3 linked regions of the Homo sapiens genome follow. The protein of the gene in region 3 interacts with the protein of the main gene of each other region in a biochemical or structural test. Each region holds a gene or a part of one and is shown on either strand. Other genes may lie near its edges.

Region 1 (7,028 bases), on a different chromosome or scaffold from region 3:
AAGACTTCTTTCTTTAGAAGTCACCAGAGGATTAGGTTTGCAGCAGATGTGAGTTTTTAAAGTATGACTTCAGAAATGAAAAACCTTGGATATTTTTGAATGGCAGCGATTAGGTTGCAGACAGAGTATGATGGCATTCCCTTGTCCTGACCTCAGATGCAGCCCCTTAAGGAACCTATATGTATCTCCTAAAGGCCAGGGACACAGCCATGGCTGAGGCTATGTTGTAGATACTCCCTCAAGGGGGCTAGAAACCTAGGAGCACATATCGCATATGGAATAGAAATGTGGCAATGGGCAAGGGAGGGCTCTTCAGTGCCCATAGATGGGAGTTTTATCACCTTGTAGAGCAAAGCAGATTCCTGGATTACATATTTGGCATTGCCTCAAATTTGCTGAGAGTGGGGCATCAGGAAAGAGAAAGGGCCTAAACAGAGCTCCAGACCTACCGTCCCAGACCAGAAGGTGAATGAGGAGAGTCCACCTACCCCAGTGGCCACCCCAATTCTATAGCAAGGCAGTACCATAGTGAGGGATGGAGCAGAGGAAAGGGCTGTCTCTTTCCTTATTAGATCAAGGCTTGAATCTAGAATTGCCCATCTGAGCTAGGATGGGAATAACCTGTGGTTAGGCAGCTGGAGGAGGCAGATGGATATCCGATTTTTTGTTCCTTGATTCAAGCAATATCTAATTTTGGCTTTTCAAGACTAAAGAGCTTTATTGAAAAAACTTAACTTTTCCTGAGACCATCATGTAAGGACCACTTTCTTGGAGAATGGACTCTTCAGATCCCAGCATTAGTTTTGTATTTGGGGTCAGACCCAACTGCCCAAGTTCCAAGGCTCATGGTGGCCTGGGGTGTAGCCTTCGCAAGTGAGAGTAGCCCTAACAATGGATTCATGAGAAACATCACAGCTGGTCAAGAGGAGCTTTCTGGATAATGTTCAGCTTTGCTAACCAATGGCCCTCATGATGCAAGGGATTCCTTTATGAAAGACATTGGAGAAGGGGAGTGGTTGTTAGTATCAAGCCTGAGAAAGAAGTCACTTGGTCAGTTTTTTAGGAATTTACCTCCTCTTTATTCACAAGAGACCCACAAAGACCGAACACATAGTCTTCACAGCTTCAGAGCTTGATGAAGACCAATGCAATATGTTTCACAGCCACTCACTGCCACTCTCTGTGACCAGCTAGCAGGGATCTTGCTAAAAAGAGGGGTAGATTGGCCAGGTCAGGGGGATCCAGCTGTGACCTGAAGAACCCTGGAATATAGTTATGGTGCCTGCAGGTGCCAACAGAGTGAGAATGGCAGGGAAATGTGGGGGAACATGAGCAATCAGAGCTCCAGATAGCCCCCCAAAACCGCACGATTTTTATTCTTATACTGAAGTTCTACAGTAGATTTGGTTTGAATAAGGGAGTTTGTAGCAAAAATGTTATAGACATCAGCCTAAAATCCTTGGATTTTCTTCCCAGTGCTAATATTTTATGTCCTAAGATGCATCTGCACACCCCAGGATCTAAGCAAGAAGTCTGATTACCATCTATTCTTCAGGATCCAAACCCAATGCTATATGTTCCATGACACCTTCCCTGATTCCATCATCCCCACCTTCTGCTGAAGATAATTTATTTCATTGGTTGGTTTCTCTAGCTGGAAATAATTCCATTATTGGATGGATGCTTAGAGGGATGCATACCTGCATGGGATGATGAATAGATGGTTGATTTTCCTTCTATACCTTTCCTTCCTGAATTGGTGTACCTTTCATCCAACATTAAGACTTGCTTCTATTGTCAACTCTCTTGCCTCTCTTCTTTTCTTTCCTTTCTGTCACCTCAGCGTTTCCTAGTCCTGGAAAGTTTTAACAATGTCCTGTATGCTTGCTGTCTTCCAATGAAATGTATGGCTCTTTCTAGTGCATTAAAAAGTAATTCAGTTTAAGACTGGTCAAATCCTTTTTTGTCCCAGCACCTGGTCTGAGAATGATTCTGGTTTATAATCTTTTGGTGACCAGCTCTTCCCAGAAAGTGGTACTAATGAAACTGTTACTAAGAAAAGGAGGCCACACATTGTTGTTTCAGTTTTCGGTATCTATTTCTTGCATATTTCAAGTGTCATTCTGCTCACAACTAGATTACAAACACTCAGTCCAATCTTGTGAATTAAAAAAACAAACACGAGTTTGCCAGTCAGTACAAGTCTTGCCGCCACCCTACCTTACAAGGTCGGTAGGAAAATTGTGACGCGAGTTCCAAGTTTGATCACAGAATGGTCAGATTAATCATCAGAAGTAACCATGATCACTAACCCACCACAAGTTACAAGACTGGAGATGTGTGCCCTGCCATTTCACAAGAAATTCAGAACTCAGAGGACATACAAATTGTAATCTAAAATTAGCCGGCATAACCTTTGTCTTCAGAGGTAGATTGTGACAGAATGGGAAAATAATAATAGCAACTAATATTTATTGAGTGTTTACTTAATGCCAAGCACAGCAGAAAACCCCTACCACAATCCCATAAGGTAAGAGTCACACCTCTGGTGCATGCCTATAAAGAAATGGTGGCAGAAGGAGGAAAAAGGACTTACCAGTGTCACACAACCAGTAAGGCATAAACCTAGGACTCAAACTCAGATCTGCCTGCCCCAGAAGCTAAGCTTTAACTACTAAAGGCAAAGAAAGAACAGAAGTGTCACTCTCTAACTCAAAGTTAAACCCTACTCTCTACATCTTACTCTCCACACCCCACCTAAACACACACAAATACACACACACACACACACACACACACACACACACACACACAGAGAGAGAGAGAGAGAGAGATGAAGGAGCAGCCTGACTTTTCCAAAGTCTAGAAAGTTCAGAATCAAGGAAGTGCCACGGAGGCAGAAGCCTTGGCTCCCAGCAAAGGCTGCCTGCTACATCGGGCTCTCTACTAAAACTGCCCAGAAAAGAGTAGGGCTGGGTTATTTGGGGGCAAACTCTAGATCCTTCTCTGAGCCTTTTATTATAGCTAAAATATCTTCAAACTGTCCCGCAGAAGAGGCCCAGCAGCAAGCAGAGACCTTGTTTTCTTCAACAGGTAAGCTGAAGTAAATGTTAAACAAAATGGGTTCTCATGGTATGAACTACCATCTGCAGGGCTTTTTTTTGCCATTGGTCCCTTATCTGACATGGAAGGCCTGTGCTTTTACCAAGAATACTTCCTAAGCAATGTGAGAGAGACAGGCACTGTGGCAGGGAGACAGGACAGCTTAGCAGGCCAACACTTGAGGTCTGTTCACATGAATTTTGCTTTGTAGGAGAGTTACTAACTTAATCTTCATGATTCAGTTTCCTCATCTATAAAATGAACCTTACAACAGAATCTGCTTCATGGAGTTTTTATGAGGATTAAATGAGATAATGCACTCAAAGCATAGTGAAGACTGGCAGTTGTTACACTCAACATCCACCTTCCCTTCCTTTCTAACAGCCCCTGCATTATGGAGGGTGGCAATGTGCCCAGCTAAACAATTATGCTATTCTCCCTTGTAGATAGAAATGGCATCAGATGTCAGCAGAAGTTGTGTGTTGGGAGGGAGAAGGGGCAGCGATCAGGAGGCATGATCTTTTGCTATTCCTTTTTCTTCTTCTTGCTTGTCCGAAGATGTGATGCTCACAGATGTAATGGCTGGAGTTACAATGGCAACTATGAAAAAAATCTTGAGGACAAGAGCCACATGCCAAGGATGGCAGATTAGAAAGGAAAAAGGAGCCTGGGATGATGTTGGCACTGTGAGACTCCATAAGATCCTGAACACCCTACTGTGGACTTCTTTTATGTGAGAGAAAGGACACCACTGTCTTACTTAAATCTACGTTATTTCAGGTCTCTTCACCAGCAATCAAATGTAATCCAAACTGATCCAACAGAACATTTTGTATACTGCATAGCACCAAATAAGTTCTCCATTCCCCAGAGATGTTTGTTTATCACTGTTAAAAGGATTGAGCATTCTTCTGCTCTTAGCAATGCCCAAAGGTTTATTAGAAGCCATCCATTTCAACCTCCAGGTCAGCAGTTCTCAGCCTTCTCACCTGGGAGCCATTTGCAGCTCTCCTTCAATGCCCAAGACAATTTAATCAGAAGCTCTAGGTTGAGATCCAGGCATCTGTGTTTCTTAAATCTCCTCAGAGCATTCCAGTGTGTAGCCAAGGTATAAAAACACTGCCCTAAGCAGATAGAAGAATCCCATCTATTAAATTAAGGACTTCTGATTTTAAACTTTAATTTATTTTTTGTATAAACACTCAGGAAAACTCAGCAATTAGAGCTGGCAAAGAACCTCAATCAAGTTCAATCTCCAGGAAAATTAGCCAGGAAAAGGCAAGTTCCATTCCAGCACTAGAACATTTGAGACCCAAAGTGGTTAGGTGGCTTGCTTAAGGTCTCTCATCTAATTATCTGTAGAATGGAAAGTAAAACCCCTGGCTCCTGCCTACAAGTGCTTGTCCCCAGTATCACACAAGCGGGACAAGAGGGTTTCAGAGAAGGCCTCCCCATCCCAGGTAGGCTCACTTAGTTGTCAAGCAGTTCTACAAAAATGAGAAAACTAGAGTGTTATTAAGCATTTCATAAAGGTGAGAATTATGTTAATGTTCATAATCAATTAGCCAACTTTGGTTTGGTTGGCTCAGAATAAGAAATAGGTGGACATCTTCATTAAGTGGGAAGATAAACTACTTTAGAAAGATGTCAAAGGGGGAAAAAACACTTTGTAATGGGAAAGTTAAAAGCAAATATTTATAAGACTTCTTTATGAATTAAATGTCCACATATTTAATGAACAGCTGTAGGCAAACTTGATTTTTTTTTTTTTTTTTTTTGGTTCCTCATGAAAGAACAGAATCCCAAGTGTGAATTGGGAGAGAGCTTTCAAAACTTCTGAGTCAGTAACTTTGGGGACAAATCTGGCATTTTCTTTAGTAAATAAATATAAGGGGCAGGAAGTAAAATATCCATCAAGAACATCATCTGCTTTTTTACCAATTAAATCTGTGTATTTGGTTGATGTTTGTCCTTTATTTCACCTCCAGACAGTGCACGTGAATTTGTGTCTCTCTTTTGGATTCTACTTGCCCTTAACAGCAAGAACTGCTTAATTGGCCAGGCGTGGTGGTTCACACCTGTAATCCCAGCACTTTGGGAGGCCAAGGCAGGTGGATCACTCGAGGTCAGGAGTTCGAGACCAGCCTGGCCAACATAGTGAAACTCCATCTCCAATGAAAATGCAAAATTAGCTGGGCATTGTGGCATGTGCCTATAATCTCAGCTACACAGGAGGCTGAGGCAGGAGAATCACTTGAATTTGGAGGCAGAGGTTGCAGTGAGCTGATCTTGCACCACTACATTGCAGCCTGGGTGACAGAGCAAGACTCTATCTCAAAAAAAGAACTGCTGAATCAATGGAATCAACTTGGTAAGAAGTAAAGGTGCTCACTAGGCTTATTAAATAAGCAAAGGTTGTAACATAGAATAGAAATATTAGAGGTTGTCCAGAAACCTAAATTACCTCTCATTGTAAGTTGTGCTTAAATTTATGTAGGAGATAGGCTTCCAAAAATTATATGCATAGTACACATTTTACTTATCTTTAACTGCCTCCCAAACAATATTGGCTCTTTAGTGGAACCCTAGAGTACATCTGAAGAGCAGAGTTCTATGTTGATGAGAATTTTAAGTCCTTAATTTTTCTGTTTGCTAAATCTCTGCTCTGTTCAAGTTGTCTGAAAGCAAAGGCATATCCATGACATAATAATCTGATACGAATTATTTCCTGTTCCAAGGCCAAGTCCACAGGACACCAAGACAATCAGCCAGTCCAAAGAAAATCAGTCAAGCCTGCCTTTCATTAGCATGTAGATTGTTCCCTAATACAAACAACAACAATAAAAAGCAACTGTCCAATTTGTTCACTTTCTAACAAATGGAGTTCAGTTTATTATACACAGTTCTATCACTTTTAAGGAAGAAATTCAATCAAATCAGTTTGGGGCATTGTACAAATTATTTAATGAATTGGCTGCAAGTTTTATTTCCCATTGGTGTTGGCAATGTACAACCCCAGGATACTGAGTATCTTTTTTTTTTTTTTTTTTTTTTTTGAGGCGGAGTCTCGCTCTGTACCCCAGGCTGGAGTGCAGTGGCACGATCTCGGCTCACTGTAAGCTCCGCCTCCCGGGTTCATGCCATTCTCCTGCCTCAGCCTCCCGAGTAGCTGGGACTACAGGGGCCTGCCACCACAACCCCAGCTAATTTTTTTGTATTTTTAGTAGAGACGGGGTTTCACCATGTTAGCCAGGATGGTCTCGATCTCCTGACCTCGTGATCTGCCCGCCTTGGCCTCCCAAAGTGCTGGGATTACAGGCGCCCGCCACCGCACCCGGCCTGATACTGAGTATCTTAAGGAAATGAATGCCTGAAGAACCAAGCAAATCATCTCAGACCAGAGGTTGGCAATGTTTTTCTATTATAAGCCAGAGAGAAAATATTTTAGGCTTTGTATGCTGCACAGTCTCTGTCACAACTACTCAACTCTGCAAAAGCAGCCCTAGACAATATTCAAATGATAGACAGAGCTGTGTTCCAATAAAACTTTATTTACAAATGGAGTGGCAGGCCTGATTTGGCACAGAGGCCATAGTTTGCAGACCACTATTTTAGACCCTTGGAAAATTTTGCAATATCCTATCACCCAAGAATATTTAGACTGTGGCTTTTTAACTATTCTAATCAAAGTGTGGAAAAGAATATATGAATTTAACATAACACTGATCATTCAAGATGGGCCCACAGGTGGTTTCCAGGACGGAAGGTACTAACTCATCCCTACCACTACTTATCAGGAAACTTGCTATCATTTTACCTACATTCTCTACTTTAATTCTCACAAAAACCTTGGGAGGCAGACATTAGAATCCCCACTTCCCAGATAAGGAAATGAATGGAAATTTCCTTCTCACAAAGAAAGAACT
Region 2 (6,929 bases), on a different chromosome or scaffold from region 3:
CAAGTCCTTCTCCTTCTTCACTATCTGAAAAGTTGTTATCCCCAACCGGCATCAGTTCTGCCATCTGTCTTTCTTCACCGACCAGGTAATCACAGCAGCTGCCATTTACTTCCCCAGTTAAGGCCACATTTGCCAGCATAATAAGCTGAGGTGCGGCCAGTTCAGCTTTGGAAAGGTCATGCAAGTCATACATGTCGTTAGGCAGGGCCATTCCAATGTTGCCACTGCTGGTAAACAGCCCTCCTCCTCCAGAAGACTGCCCCATTACCTGGGTGGCCATAACTGTATTCTGAATTAAAAACAAAACAAAACAAGAGCACCAGTTTAAACACTACTGTTACTGGCTTAAAACCACATCGCTGTAATTCTTCATAACTTAAAAATTTTCCAGTATGATCTTTATAACTCAGTAAACTTCATCGCCTATTAAAAACAAATCTTTAAAATAGTTGTTAATTCCCAATAGTCTACTGCAATCACCAAAAAAAAATTTCTACTATCCCTATAAAACAATTCTACCAATTGTTTGCACAACTCATTCATCATTCAGCCACTGGCATGTGGTGCCTCCTCAAGCACTTTTAATTGTTCTGGTGGGGATAAAAAGTAACCTTCATTTTTACTGTTAAAATTATTTTAAAAATTCAAAACATGAGTAGTAAATTATTGTCCTCCCAACTTTTCCCCCCTTCAACAGTTCAATGGTCTGAATCAGAAAGCCCAGAAATCCACAAGCCATTCAGTGCATTTATTAAGTACACAAACACATCTGGAAAGTACAAGCCTGTAATAATTGTTCAACTTAATTGGATTTCGCATGAACTCAACTAACTCCAAAAGAATAAACTACTGTGAAAAAGTAGCAGTCAGCCCCTTAATTTTTCGACAACTCCACAGGCTTAAAAGAAAAAACATTTATGGACCCCTTTTCTTGTGAAAAAGGAAGTTTGATTTATTCAAAACTTCACAAATAAAAATTAATAAGCTTATTTTTCTGCAGGCTGAAGTTCCACAACACTGAATTCCAAGCTTTTCAATACGAATAAAATCATCGTGCAACTCAACTCGACAATCAGCAACTTTCTTGCATTGTGCTTGACTTGGCCTACTTGCCTAGTGGAAGCCATTACAAGATCACCTTCTTCAAAACAAGTTGGGCTTTCTAGATGCTACGTTACTTCTCAATCTAAAAGGTGCCATTCTCAAACGAAGTGTTCACTCGCAAATTAAAAAAAGTAAGAAGTTCTAAGAAAATAAAGTTAAACCGAAAATACAAAAAGTAACCCGCTTCACCCAAGTGTATAAACACAAACCGGTTTAGTTCTACGTACCAACAAAAGTTGGAAGCAAATGCCATCACAGAAAACAGAGGGCGAAGGCTGTCCCGGGGCTGAACAGCCCAAGCTATTGGGTAATTTGGCCCAACATCGACTTTTCTAATTGCTCCCTAACCCCTAACTGCCACCCCAAATGGAATTTTAACGATTGTTAGGAAGACCGTCCAGGCACAGCCCGAAAGCCCAACGTGCTGCACGAATTCCTCCGTGCTGCTGCCACCAGCGCCTGCCTCGGCGGCGGCATTCCTAACTGAAATAGGCATTCGGCCATTTTCTCAAAATACCAAACACAAAGCAGCTCTTTGCAAACTCGGGCGCTCTCGCTTCCTCTCGCCTCGGCCCGCTCACTGCACACATTTACACACCAACTCGCGGGAGTCGCCCCGACACTCGTCCTGAGCCTTTTCCTGCGCTCTCCAACACTAAAACGGGGGAGGGGATCAAGCTCGAGGCGCTGTTTGGCCGGAACCAGTCCTCCCCGAGTCCAGGCAGCCCCCTCCCCAGCCCTAGGGCCCCCGTCCCGGGAGAGGACGGAAAGTTACCGCGCAGCCGGCGTCCGGGCTTCTCCGACCGCCCCCGGGCCCCTCCGACCGCCCCGGGGCTCGCCCAACGCCCAGGGCCGGGGAGGCTCCGCGGGCGCCCTCGCGAGGCGTCGGGCTCCGAGCGCCGGAGGGGGCCCCCACACGGGCCAGCCGCCACCCCCGCGCCCCGGAAGTTTGCGAACTTCACTCCCCCACGGCGCCCGGCAGGACGCGCGCCCCAGCCCCGCCAGCTCCAGCGGTCGGGTGGCCGGACGCGGGGGCCAGCGGCGCCGGACGGCTGAAGCGCAGAAATCGCTGTCCAGCCCCGCAGGCGGAACCGCCCGGGCCCCGGGGCTGACTCAACCCGCCCGGCCGCACTCAACGGCGCCTTCCGGCGACAGGGAGAGGCCCTGGGGGAGGGGGCCAGGAGGGCCGCGGGCCGGCGCGGGGCTGCGGTGGGACCCGGGGGCAGGAGGAGGAAGCAGAGGAAGTTTCAGGACTACGGGCCCGAGCAGCTCCGCTCCTTGGCCTCAAAGGACCTGACTCGGTGGAGCGTCCGGGCCAGCGCGGAGGCGGCGTCCCAGCCTCCAGTGGGGAGGGGGTCCAGGCGACGCGCTGCTCCCAACAAACGCCCCCAGCCCCCGGGCGGCTGCTGTGTAACCCGATCCTGCTCGGCCGCCAGCCCCCGCCCGGCGGGGCCGCCGCCGCCGGAGCCACAGTATCTGCAAATCAGCCCTGGACAGCGCCTGACTCCGCGTCCTTCCGCGCCCTCCCCGTCCCGCCACTGCCGCCGCCCGGGCGGCCCTCCCCCACCCTGACCGAGCCCCCAGCCCAGCGCCCCACTTACCGGCCTTCCTCGGTGAGGAGGGGCGGGCGACCCTGAGTCGCCGCTCCTTCTCCGACTACTTTTCTTTGTTGCTGGAGTTTCGGGGGAGAGGTGGGGGAGGGTGGTAAAGTTGGGTGCTGGGGCCGTCGTGGACCAAGAAGGCCCAGGAGTGGGGCTGCAGAGGGTGCTCAGGCCTCCGGGCCTCGCCCTGCCGTCTCGGCTGCGGCAGCCGCCGCCAGGGTCTGGGGCCCCGGGCCTCGGCGGCGCTCGCTCCGCTGCTGCGCCGCGAGCTCGCGGCAGCCGCACATTCCAACACAGGACGCTGCGCCGCGCACCCAGTCCGCGCCGCCGCCGCCGCCACCGCCCGCGGGACACGCCCCCTCCGACGCCCGCGCGCGCCCGCGAGACACGCCCCCTCCGACGCCCGCGCGCGTGGCCGCTAGGCGCGCCCCGCCCCTCTACCAAGCAAGGAGTGCCCCAGTCTCCAGCTCGCCTGGGGGCGCGTCTAGGGGGAGCCGCCCGTAATCCTCCCGGCCCCTCACTCCTGCCCTTAGGTCAGAAAAGAGGCGGGCCCCACTCCCTTTCTCGATTTCTATTACAAACAAACAACAAAAGTTCCCCCCAGCCCTGGCGTGCATGCATGAGAATAGAGCTGTTAAAAGAAGAATCCGCAGGCTTTGACGGGTCTCTTTAGAGCTATTGTCACCGGCCTCTCAAGTCTAAAGCGCTCCAAGATACCCTTCAGATCTCTTCAAGTCTCCACCCATAGCTGTCCTTGACTAATTAAGCTTCGTTTTAAGCGTCTGCGGTAAAAAAAAAAAAAAAAAAAAAAAGTCTTCCAAATTTCAAACTACCGGAGGGGGAATGCAGTCAGTTTGGGAGAAGTGAGAAGAAAACGTTTCAGGAAGGAGGTTATGGACTCAGAAAGCGTGAGCGTGAGGACTGAGGGGACAGATCCCTAGACGTGGCAGGTAGCAGGTCATTGCTGAGCCCGGAAAGCACGACTGCAGGGGAGGAATTACCCTCAGATGACAGAAGAAAAGGTGGTGAGGACGGGGAGGCTGCCTGGGGCCACGGTGTGTCGGAGTAACCGGGCTCACGTCTATGAAGCGGGATAACCAAGCGGAATGCCTAGCCCATAGTCATGTGCTAACAAAAACAAAAACAACAAAAAAGAACAGAGAGAGAGTAATTCCACCCCCTTTCACACCTGAAAGAGCTTCTCAGTCTGCCTTTGATACCTTCCTAAACGTCAGTCGTAAGTCACACCTGTCCTCAGAAGCATAGTGGCTCCCCATGACTACAAGCTTAAAGCTTAAACCCCTTAGTGTGGCGTTCAAGCCCCTACTTAACTTGACCTAGATAAGTCTGACTATTGCTTGGTATTACAACATAAGTAGCAAGTGCTATGGGGGTTTGCCAGTAGGAAGATGGATCCCAAGAGGTTCTAGAAACTTTTCACAGTAGATGTATTCAGTCTGACCTTGGAGAATGAGGAAAACTTCAACAGGTGGAAAGTAGGGCAAGGAACACTCTACACAGTGAAAAGGGCAAGCTCAAAATCCCAAAGCAGTTGTTAAGACATCCCAGCTTCTCCTCAGGGTACCTCACTTCCTTCTCTTTGAAGTTCCTTTATTTGTTTCTCTTAGGGCAGGGCTTCCAGACTCTTCATTTCCTGGTATACCCACGTAGGACCTCTGTTTCCCTCTATCTGGACAATATATTACTAATTAATGCAGTCTCCGATGCAAGATGAAATGAAGACCCTAAGGTGCTCGACCACCAAAAGTTTCAATGAGGCAATTTCAAATGTAACACCTCTCCATGAATCAAACCTGAAAAGTATTCATTTTCATTGAACCAAAGAGACAGGAAGGAAGGGAGGGAGGGAGGGAGGAAAGGAAGATCGACATTTTTAGGACTGGTACAAACTTTTCTATATATATTTTATTTGTTTAACTAAAATCAAGTTTGAGGTCACATGGCTTTTTTAGATGCTGTAGCCCAGGGTACAATTCAGGCCTCTACCAAGGTTGTCAAAGACATAAACTTGTTTTCTTTCCCTTTTTTAGGTCCAAAAAGGCAAAAATGAAATGTCTCTTGTTAAACTTACTAAATGTCCTTCATTTCCTCAATCTGACTGCTTACTGGAAATGTCTTATTAATTGCAAATTTATTCCCACATATTGTGATGCAAATAGAAGAATGGCGAATGGGCAGCTGCATTCATTTAAAATTAGCAGAGGCCCTTGTTCAAGGGATGGCATATTCAGAGTGACCCAAATTATCATGACATGAAGGCCACAGGTCAAATTCATAGGCCAAATTACAAATCAATTGAAAATTTTCTTGAGGGAAGCTGTTGCTATGAACTTGAATTCCTAACTGTTTTTCAAAAGTCTGTATTTTACTTTGCTGTATCCAAACTTTAGGATCTTCTGCAAGATAAAAACTCTGAAATGAGAATGAGTTCTGCTTTTCTTATATGGTTTTTTTCCTGCATATTTAACTCATCAATTTTTTTATTTTAATTATCATATGTTCTTAATAGTATTTTCTCTAGAGAGATTTCTTTCTTTTTTTTTTTTTTTTTTTTTTTGAGACAGAATTTGGCTCTTTTTGCCCAGGCTGGAGTGCAATAGCACGATCTCGGCTCACCGCAACCTCCGCCTCCCGGGTTCAAGCAATTCTCCTGCCTCAGCCTCCCGAGTAGCTGGGATTACAGGCATGTGCCACCACGCCAAGCTAATTTTGTATTTTTAGTTAGAGACGGGGGTTTCTCCATGTTGGTCAGGCTGGTCTCGAACTCCCAACCTCAGGTGATCCGCCTGCCTCGGCTTCCCAAAGTTCTGGGATTACAGGCGTGAGCCACCACACCTGGCCAATTATATATATATATATATATTATTTTTTTTTTTGACATGGAGTCTTGCTCTGTCACCCAGGCTGGAATGCAAAGGTGCGATCTCGGCTCACTGCAACCTCCACCTCCCGGGTTCAAGTGATTCTCCTGCCTCAGCCTCCCGAGTAGCTAGGATTACAGGCACGTGCCACCTTGTCTGGCTAATTTTTGTATTTTTAGTAGAGATGGTGTTTCACCATGTTGGCCAGGCTGGTCTTGAACTCTTGACCTCAGATGATCCACCTGCCTGGGCCTCCCAAAGTGCTAGGATTACAGGTGTGAGCCACCCCGCCTGGGAGTCTTGCTCTGTCGCCCAGGCTAGAATGCAGTGGCAAGATCTTGGCTCACTGGAACCTCTGCCTCCTGGGTTCAAGCAATTCTCCTGCCTCAGCCTCCCGAGTAGCTGAGATTACAGGCACCCGCTAGGACGCCCAGCTAATTTTTGTATTTTAGTAGAGATGGGGTTTCACTATGTTGGTCAGGCTAGTCTCGAACTCCTGACCTGAGGTGATCCACCCGCCTCGGCCTCCCAAAGTGCTGGGATTACCTGTGTAAGCCACCGAGTCCAGCCAGCATCATCTACTCTTGCTGCCGGTTGGACTCTGACCTCTTGTTCTGGTTCTGATAACTGGAATAGTGTCTTACTCATTATAGGCATCAACAGCTTGAGCCAGGGAGGTTTTCCCTTCATGCTGAGAAGGGAAGGAGGTGAACAAGAGAACTTGAGACTTGAGCTGGGCTCCTTCCTGCCTTCTTTTGGAGCCTAGATCACATTTGGAACCCGCTCCCATTTTCGTCCAATCCTAATGCCCTTCCCTGCTGTTTCTGCTCCCATTTTCGTCCAATCCTAATGCCCTTCCCTGCTGTTTCTGTCTCTAACATTTATTACTAACATGCTAGGTATTTTTATTTATTTACCCTACTTAGGAACTTAAGCTCCAGAAAGGCAGAGACATTTTTTTATCCCCAGCACCTATAACTCGTTAGTTGCTCAACAAATATTAGTTAGATGAATGGTTACAAAATCCTAGCTTGGTATCACAATCTCTCAAAGTGGGGACCATCCTTACCCATGTCGGTACCCAACGTTCAGTACCCATCACAGTCTTCCCTCATGTTAAGCATGAGCCTGCCTCCTTGAATCTCCCTAATAACTACTGTTAAATAAATTAATGCTCCTGGATCCCTGGTCTTGGGGTTCTACCCTCCTGGTGAAAATCTCCCTGCCTGCTCTTCTGCATATTGTATTCCTAGCACATTCCTGATTTCACGCATCAGCCTCTGGTTGGATATTCCTTGGTGATCATTAACAATCTGTTTTGGCCAGGTGCGGTGGCTCACGC
Region 3 (7,028 bases):
CAAGGTGAATGGATTTACAAGTTGTAGTATTATCATACAAAATACTACTCAGCAATAAAATTACTGATATATGCAACAAGAACTAATCTCAACACATTATACTGAGCAAAAGCCAGACACAAAAAATAGACTGCATGTATCCATTTATACAAAGTTCTAGAAGAGACAACATAAATCTATAGTGGTAGAAATAAGATCAGTGATTACCTAGGACATGAGCAATGACTGTAAAGCCAAGAGGAACTTCCTGGGGTGATGAAAATGGTCTGGCCACAAAGGCGTGTACATTTACCACAGCCTATCAAGGTATGCTTTTAAATGTGTGCGTTTTATTGGACATAAACTATACCTCAAAAACATTTTTTTTTTTAAAAAAAAAAGGAATCTGCCCAACAGCTGCCTCTCCCTTGGGGGGAAAAAAAGAGTAAAACTGACAAATTCTTATTAGCAAAAATTAAACAAGTGATGAGATAGTAGTATAGGGATATATTACTTAAAGATAGAAAAAATAAAGATCACTGAAATCACATTTTATTGGAAAAAAATAAAATCAGATGACAATATATTTTATATCCACAAAATCTGGAGATTAGCAGCAAAAAATAGCATATACATCATAAAGAACTGTGATTCTTATACGAATTTGATTCCCTGTCCCCTCTGAAGATCTGATAAAGCAGTGGTTCCTAACCTTTTTGGCACCAGGGACCAGTCTCACGGAAGACAATTTTTCCACAGCAGGTAGGGAAGGGGAAAGGTGATCGTTTCAGGATAAAAATTATCCCACCATCAGGCATTAGATTCTCATAAGGAATAAGGAACGCACAACCTAGATCCCTTGCATGCGCAGTTCACAATAGGGTTCGCGCTCCTATGAGAATCTAATGCCGCTGCTGATCTGACAGGAGGCAGAGCTCGGGCTGCAATGTTCACTCACACACCGCTCACCTCCTGTGCAGGAGGGACCCCTGTGATAAAGGTTATGAATAATTCCTTCAAACACAAAAAAGAAAACTCAAATTAAAAAACAATTCTATGGACTCCTGCCCCAGATTAAAATGACCAGTTATAATCATTTTAAATTAAATAATTTAAAAGTATCAAGTATCCTTAAATCATCAAATAAACTAAAGCAGTATTACTGACCCTTTGTGCCTAACTCTGAAGAAAAATATGGATTAAAGTTTCCTGCCTCAACTATTCTGACCTTTCAAGACACAGGTACTAAATAATTATGAGATAATTCTCCAGTCTCTTTACTATCACAGATGTCACCTCAGGTAGACTACATCCCTATGGAAGAAAGTTCTTCAAAATCAGAGCTGAAGGAACCAGGAAGTAAGCATCTCTAGTATCTTCTCTCTAGTCACGATTCTGCCCCAATCACTTCAGACTTTAAAAGATAAGTCTATTGATTTTTCTTTGGTACAACTCTTTAATACATTTAGAGAACTGCTTATGTATTGATGTTTGATGTACATCAAGCTGTAATGGCAATGAAATTAAGTATCATATTATTTCATAATGCCTACACTACTAGATCCATGAAAGCCACTCTGAAAATAAGGCCTAGGCTGGGCGCCGTGGCTCACACCTGTAATCCCAGCACTTTGGGAGGCCAAGGCAGGCAGATGGCGAGGTCAAGAGATCGAGACCATCCTGGCCAACCAGGTGAAATCCCGTCTCTACTAAAAATACAAAAATTGGCTGGGGGTGGTGGCGCATGCCTGTAGTCCCAGCTACTCAGGAGACTGAGGCAGGAGAATCTCTTGAACCCAGGAGGCGGAGGTTGCAGTGAGCCGAGATTCGTGCTACTGCACTCCAGCCTGGTGACAGAGCGAGACTCCGTCTCAAAAAAAAAAAAAAGAAAAGATGACCTATGTTCCTCCTAGAGGCAGGCTTTCAAAAGGTGCAATGTCAGCCTTAGGAGGCTTAGGAATCTTTCCAGATGAGGGTTTAAGAAATGAAGCTCCGTTTTTCTGGTGAGAAAATTCCTAAAATTAGATCTAGTTTTCACAAAACTCCTCTTAACAGAACAGAATCTCTAAAATGTGTGTTCTGAACTAAATAGTTCATCTGCACTTTGTCTATCTTTTTTACCTAGAAGTATAACAAGGCAAAAATAAGCAATAGGAAAAAAAAAACTTAAATTTTCCCATTCTCACCTTAATCTTGGCACTCCACCTTTCAAAGTTATCAACAGGTCAAAATATACATGTGTTAGCCTTACTTTCTAGTCATATAAATGTCTACAGTCTTGGCCAGTCACGGTGGCTCACGCCTGTAATCCCAGCACTTTCAGAAGCCAAGGTGGGCGCATCACTTGAGCTCAGGAGTTCAAGACCAGCCTGGGCAATACTGTTTCTACCAACAACAAAGAAAATTTGCCAGGCGTCATGGAGCATTGCCTGTAGTCCCAGTTACTCAGGAGGCTGAGGCAGGAGGATCATTTGAGCCCAGGAAGCGGAAGTTGCAGTGAGCAGAGATCACACCACTGCACTCCAGCCTGGGTGACAGAGCAGAGACCCTGTCTCAAAAAAAAAATTGTAGTCTCGTTCCACCCAACTTTTTGGTTTCAACTAATACTTATAGCTCCTGGAAACACTCATCCTTTTCTTGCTCCCATTACTGCACTCTTCTAATTTTCCTTCACCCTCTCTCTTAACCTACATCCTCTTTTTCCTTCCATTCTCTATCTGAATATAACCCAAGACATCCCCTCATCTGCTTCCTGTTCTTCCTCTGTTTAATACTTCAGTAGGCAGCTTTAGTCAACCATGCTGATAATCCCACATGAACATTTCCCAACTAAGCCCTTCAGGTGCTACAGAAGCAACACCATTTTTTTTTTCAATCACATCCACAATCAAGTCCACATCTTCACTGACTGCCTAATTCCTCTGGTCCATTCTTCCTAACCTGTATCTTGTAATTGGCATAATTTCTTCTTTAGGAAAAACCATCTAAGCCCTTATCACCTCACATACAGATTAAAGCCTACAATTACCTAAGCAATCTCACCTGCATTCATTTATTCCCCAACATCCCTTCCTCACAAATCCTTCTTGTACAAAGATGCCAGTGTCAAGTCTCCCTAAAACAAGACAGGAAACCCAAGAGAAAAAGCTATACGAGTCCTCTCTAGGTGATTTCATCAAGTCCCTCTAATGAACTTCCTTCACTTTATCTATTCAACCCATTCCCCTTTTCTGTTGCTCATCAGGCCAAAATTAGGCATGTCACATTGCTGCTTCCTGTCCCATAATAATCTATTCATACTTTACTGTCCCAACACTTGACCTGCCTCCTCCAAGTTGCTTTCAAAATGTGCAGTTCTCAATTAAATTTGCATTGGTTTAAATACAGCAAAACTAGACTTTAGAGACTTTAACAATAATCCAGCATCGTACAAAATACTTTTACTAGTTTGTTCTATTTTAATAAATGTCCCTAGTTAAGAAGATTGTAACATACATATTAGGCAATTATCAGATCATAGTACTTTTAACATTCTTCAGATCAAGCCAGATAATAATTCCTCTGAATCTAAAGAAACAGCCAACTTTGGCAAGGCATGGTGGCTCACACCTGTAAACCCAGCACTTTTGGAGGCTGAGGCAGTTGGATCACAAGGTCAGGAGTTCAAGACCAGCCTGGCCAAGATGGTGAAACCCCATCTCTACTAAAAATACAAAAATTAGCCAGGTCTGGTGGCGGATGCCTGTAATCCTAGCTACTCGGGAGGCTGAGGCAGAGAACTGCTTGAACTCAGGAGGCTGAGGTTGCAGTGAGCCGAGATGGCGCCACTGCACTCCAGCCTGGGTGACAGAGCATGACTCCATGTCAAAAAAAAAAAAAAAAAAAATAGCCAACTTTACCTGAAACATGTTATCATCTCTGCTGCTGCTGCTCTGTTTAGAAGATGACAGGGCTCTCGAAGTCTCACCTGTCTTTTGTTTCTTTACAGGTTTTTCTGGAGCAACTTGCTTTTTCCTCTTTAACTAGAAAAGAATATGGTTAAAATTTGCACACATAAAAATAAAACATACCCCAGTGTCAAAAGATCCCATTACTTTTTAAGATTTAAACAATCAAAAGACTACATCCAAAATATCATAAATATATACATAAGCAAGTTTCACTCAACAACAAAACTATGAATCTAACCAATCCTTCTGTCTAGTAATGTTTTCAAACTCTGTTCTCAGGATCCCAAAAGACACTTCAGGCATTATAGTAGTATTAACCACAGGAACGGTTATTTTGTGGTTTGGGATCCCACATACGATTTCTTTGGTAGAAAAAAAAATGGAGGGATCTTGCTACTTCTGAATAAACCTGGAAACCACAGTCTACTAAGGCTAGTCAGTTACTTATTTTACGAAGCAGATATACTAATTAAAAAGAATATAACCAACTTATTCCATTTCCAGGATATGTTTATTTATGTCCTGCCTATTCCAAAAGGAATTTATGCTGGCTTAAGGAATTTATGGGCCGGGCGCGGTAGCTCACACCTGTAATCCCAGCACTTTGGGAGTCCGAGGCGGGAGGATCACTTGAGGTCAGGAGTTCGAGACCAGCCTGGCCACATGGTGAAACCCCATCTCCACTAAAAATACAAAAAAAGTTAGCCAGGCGTGGTGGTGGGCACCTATAATCCCAGCTACTAGGGAGGCTGAGGCAGAGAACTGCTTGAATCCAGGAGGCTGAGGTTGCAGTGAGCCGAGATCGTGCCATTGCACTCCAGCCTGGGCAACAGAGCGATACTCCATCTCAAAAAAAAAAAAAAAAAAAAAAATTAGCCAGGCGTGGTGGCACACGCCTGTAATCCCAGCTACTCGGAAGGCTGAGGCAGGAGAATCGCTTGAACCCGGGACGCGAAGGTTGCAGTGAGCCGAGATCGCGCCATTACACTCCAGCCTGGGCAACAAAAGCAAAACTTCATCTCAAAATAAAAAATTAAAAAAAAAGGAATTTACAATTAGGCAAATCTTTAGAGAGCTATTTTGCACTGGGCACTGACAGCCAGCAACTCAAGAACTTCCTCATTACAAAAAAAAAAAAAATCATTGTAGACAGCTATGTGTTAGACTAGCTTTCAAAAATCACAACGTTGTTTTAAAAACAGCATTATTTTAAAAGCTTATTAGAAAGTCGCATTCTCAAAAAGAGCTAACCCATAAAAACCACTACAATACCCAACCCAAACAGAAGAGGGCAGTCATGTTCCTTCTTGATGGAATAGTATAAATATTTTAATGTTACTAAATTAATTGAATGTTACCAAATTAGATGAAGCTAGGAAAAATATTATATACATGTAAAACATGAAATGAAAAATGTGGTATACAAGGTTAAGTGTTTACAAGAGTAATATTACTATTTGGGACAAACAAAAAGTTAGCTCAATATGCAGAAAGCAATTATTCTATAAATCAGGCTCTAAGTATTCCCTGTGGAATAGTGCATGTCTGGCAAATAAAAGCTCAATACACATGTGTTACATCAACATACTCAAATACTATATAGGGTGCAAATTTTAAAATTAAGAAATTTACTCAAGTATAGTCTTTGAAGCCTTATTTTACCCTTCCATGTGTTGTTATATTCTATATTTATACTTTAAGGTTGCAACTTCTCCAATCTCCCATACGCTCTCCCCTTTTCTTTTAGCTAAAATTGCTAAGCTTCAGGAGGAAAAAAAAAAGATAGGGAGCCTGCTTCTTTTGAATAAACTTTCGGAAATCACAGGTCTACCAGTGCTAGTCATTACTTACTATTTTACAAAGGATATATACTAATTAGGAAAAACACGACCAACTTATTCTATTTCTAGGATATAAATATCTCTTCAGATATGTAAAGTTCTATGCGATAAAAGACAATTCTGCACGGAAGACTTGACCGCAGAGTGAGACGCTCAGTTATGCTCCACTGAGATGCTCAATTTAGCGAAATTCACCAATTACGGTGCAGCTGTCATCTAATGCAGAAAAAGCCTATCTTGTCAATGGGTTTCAAGTTAGCTTTACTGCGTGCTGATTTAATTAAATGGAAGGGACCAGAGCACAAACTTAGTACAAACTTAAAAATGTACCAAGTCTAAAATTCAGAAAACCTTATGTGCAGAATAAACACCAGTAACTAAGAGAACTGTCAAAATTAACATTTTATGGCCACTCATGATGGCTCACACCTGTAATCCCAGCACTTTGGGAGTCTGAGGCAGAAGAATTGCCTGAGGCCAGGAGTTTGAGACCAGCCTTAGCAACACAGCAATACCTGGTCCCTACAAAAACATTTTTTTTTTAATTAACCAGGCATGATGCCTGTAGTCCCAGCTACTCTGGAGGCAGAGGTGGGAGGACTGCTTGAGACCAGGAGGTCGAGGCTGCAGTGAGCCATGATGGTGCCACCACACTCCAGCCTCGGCAAGAGAGTAAGACCCTGTCTTTAAAAAAAAAAATTAACATTTTACAAAAAAAAATCTGGTAAATTTCTAAATAACGGCAAATAGTGACTTTGGCCTACTTAGAATTCTATGACCCTAGGATGCAAGGCAGTGTTTCTGCAACTTTAGGGTTCCTAATGATGCTCAACAGAAGACTTGTTAAGTCTGATTTAGGGCCTATGAGTATGAATGTGCAAAAAGCATCCTAGGCACTTCTAGTCAAGTGGTCCAGAGACCAACCGTACCTCCAGAAATACCCATTCACATTCTTATTTTTTATTTTTTATTTATTTATTTTTTTAAAGAGACAGGTTCTTGCTATGTTAGCCTGGTTGGTCTTGAACTCTTGGCCTCAAGCAATCCTGCCACCTCGGCCTCCCAAAGAAGTAGGATAACAGGCATGAGCCACCGCGCCCAGCTAGATCCTCATTTTAAGATGTTAATACACCTTTTACTATCCTTCAGAATGGGATATGGACAATATTGTTGAGTATCACCAAAATGACTTGGTGCAGCAGTAGTCACCTTTTTGTCAACCTCACTGTCAGAATCACTGCCAGAAGAGCTTGAAGAA

Evidence for each region. Proteins that work in one complex are often made in the same cells at the same time.
Region 1: the proteins of SUB1 (region 3) and POU2AF1 form a complex in vitro, tested with the Homo sapiens proteins (one study listed by BioGRID).
Region 2: the proteins of SUB1 (region 3) and REST form a complex in vitro, tested with the Homo sapiens proteins (one study listed by BioGRID).

The regions. Positions count from the first base shown.
Region 1 is NC_000011.10:111,369,257-111,376,284, forward strand, and holds part of POU2AF1 (POU domain class 2-associating factor 1), read right to left. Parts: intron 1-7,028. UniProt on the Homo sapiens protein: Transcriptional coactivator that specifically associates with either POU2F1/OCT1 or POU2F2/OCT2. It boosts the POU2F1/OCT1 mediated promoter activity and to a lesser extent, that of POU2F2/OCT2. It recognizes the POU domains of POU2F1/OCT1 and POU2F2/OCT2.
Region 2 is NC_000004.12:56,903,990-56,910,918, reverse strand, and holds the start of REST (RE1-silencing transcription factor), read right to left. Parts: upstream 3,020-6,929; 5' UTR 2,706-3,019; intron 2,010-2,705; exon of another isoform or gene 1,332-2,009; intron 290-1,331; 5' UTR 281-289; coding exon 1-280. UniProt on the Homo sapiens protein: Transcriptional repressor which binds neuron-restrictive silencer element (NRSE) and represses neuronal gene transcription in non-neuronal cells.
Region 3 is NC_000005.10:32,588,536-32,595,563, reverse strand, and holds part of SUB1 (activated RNA polymerase II transcriptional coactivator p15), read right to left. Parts: coding exon 6,980-7,028; intron 4,002-6,979; coding exon 3,879-4,001; intron 1-3,878.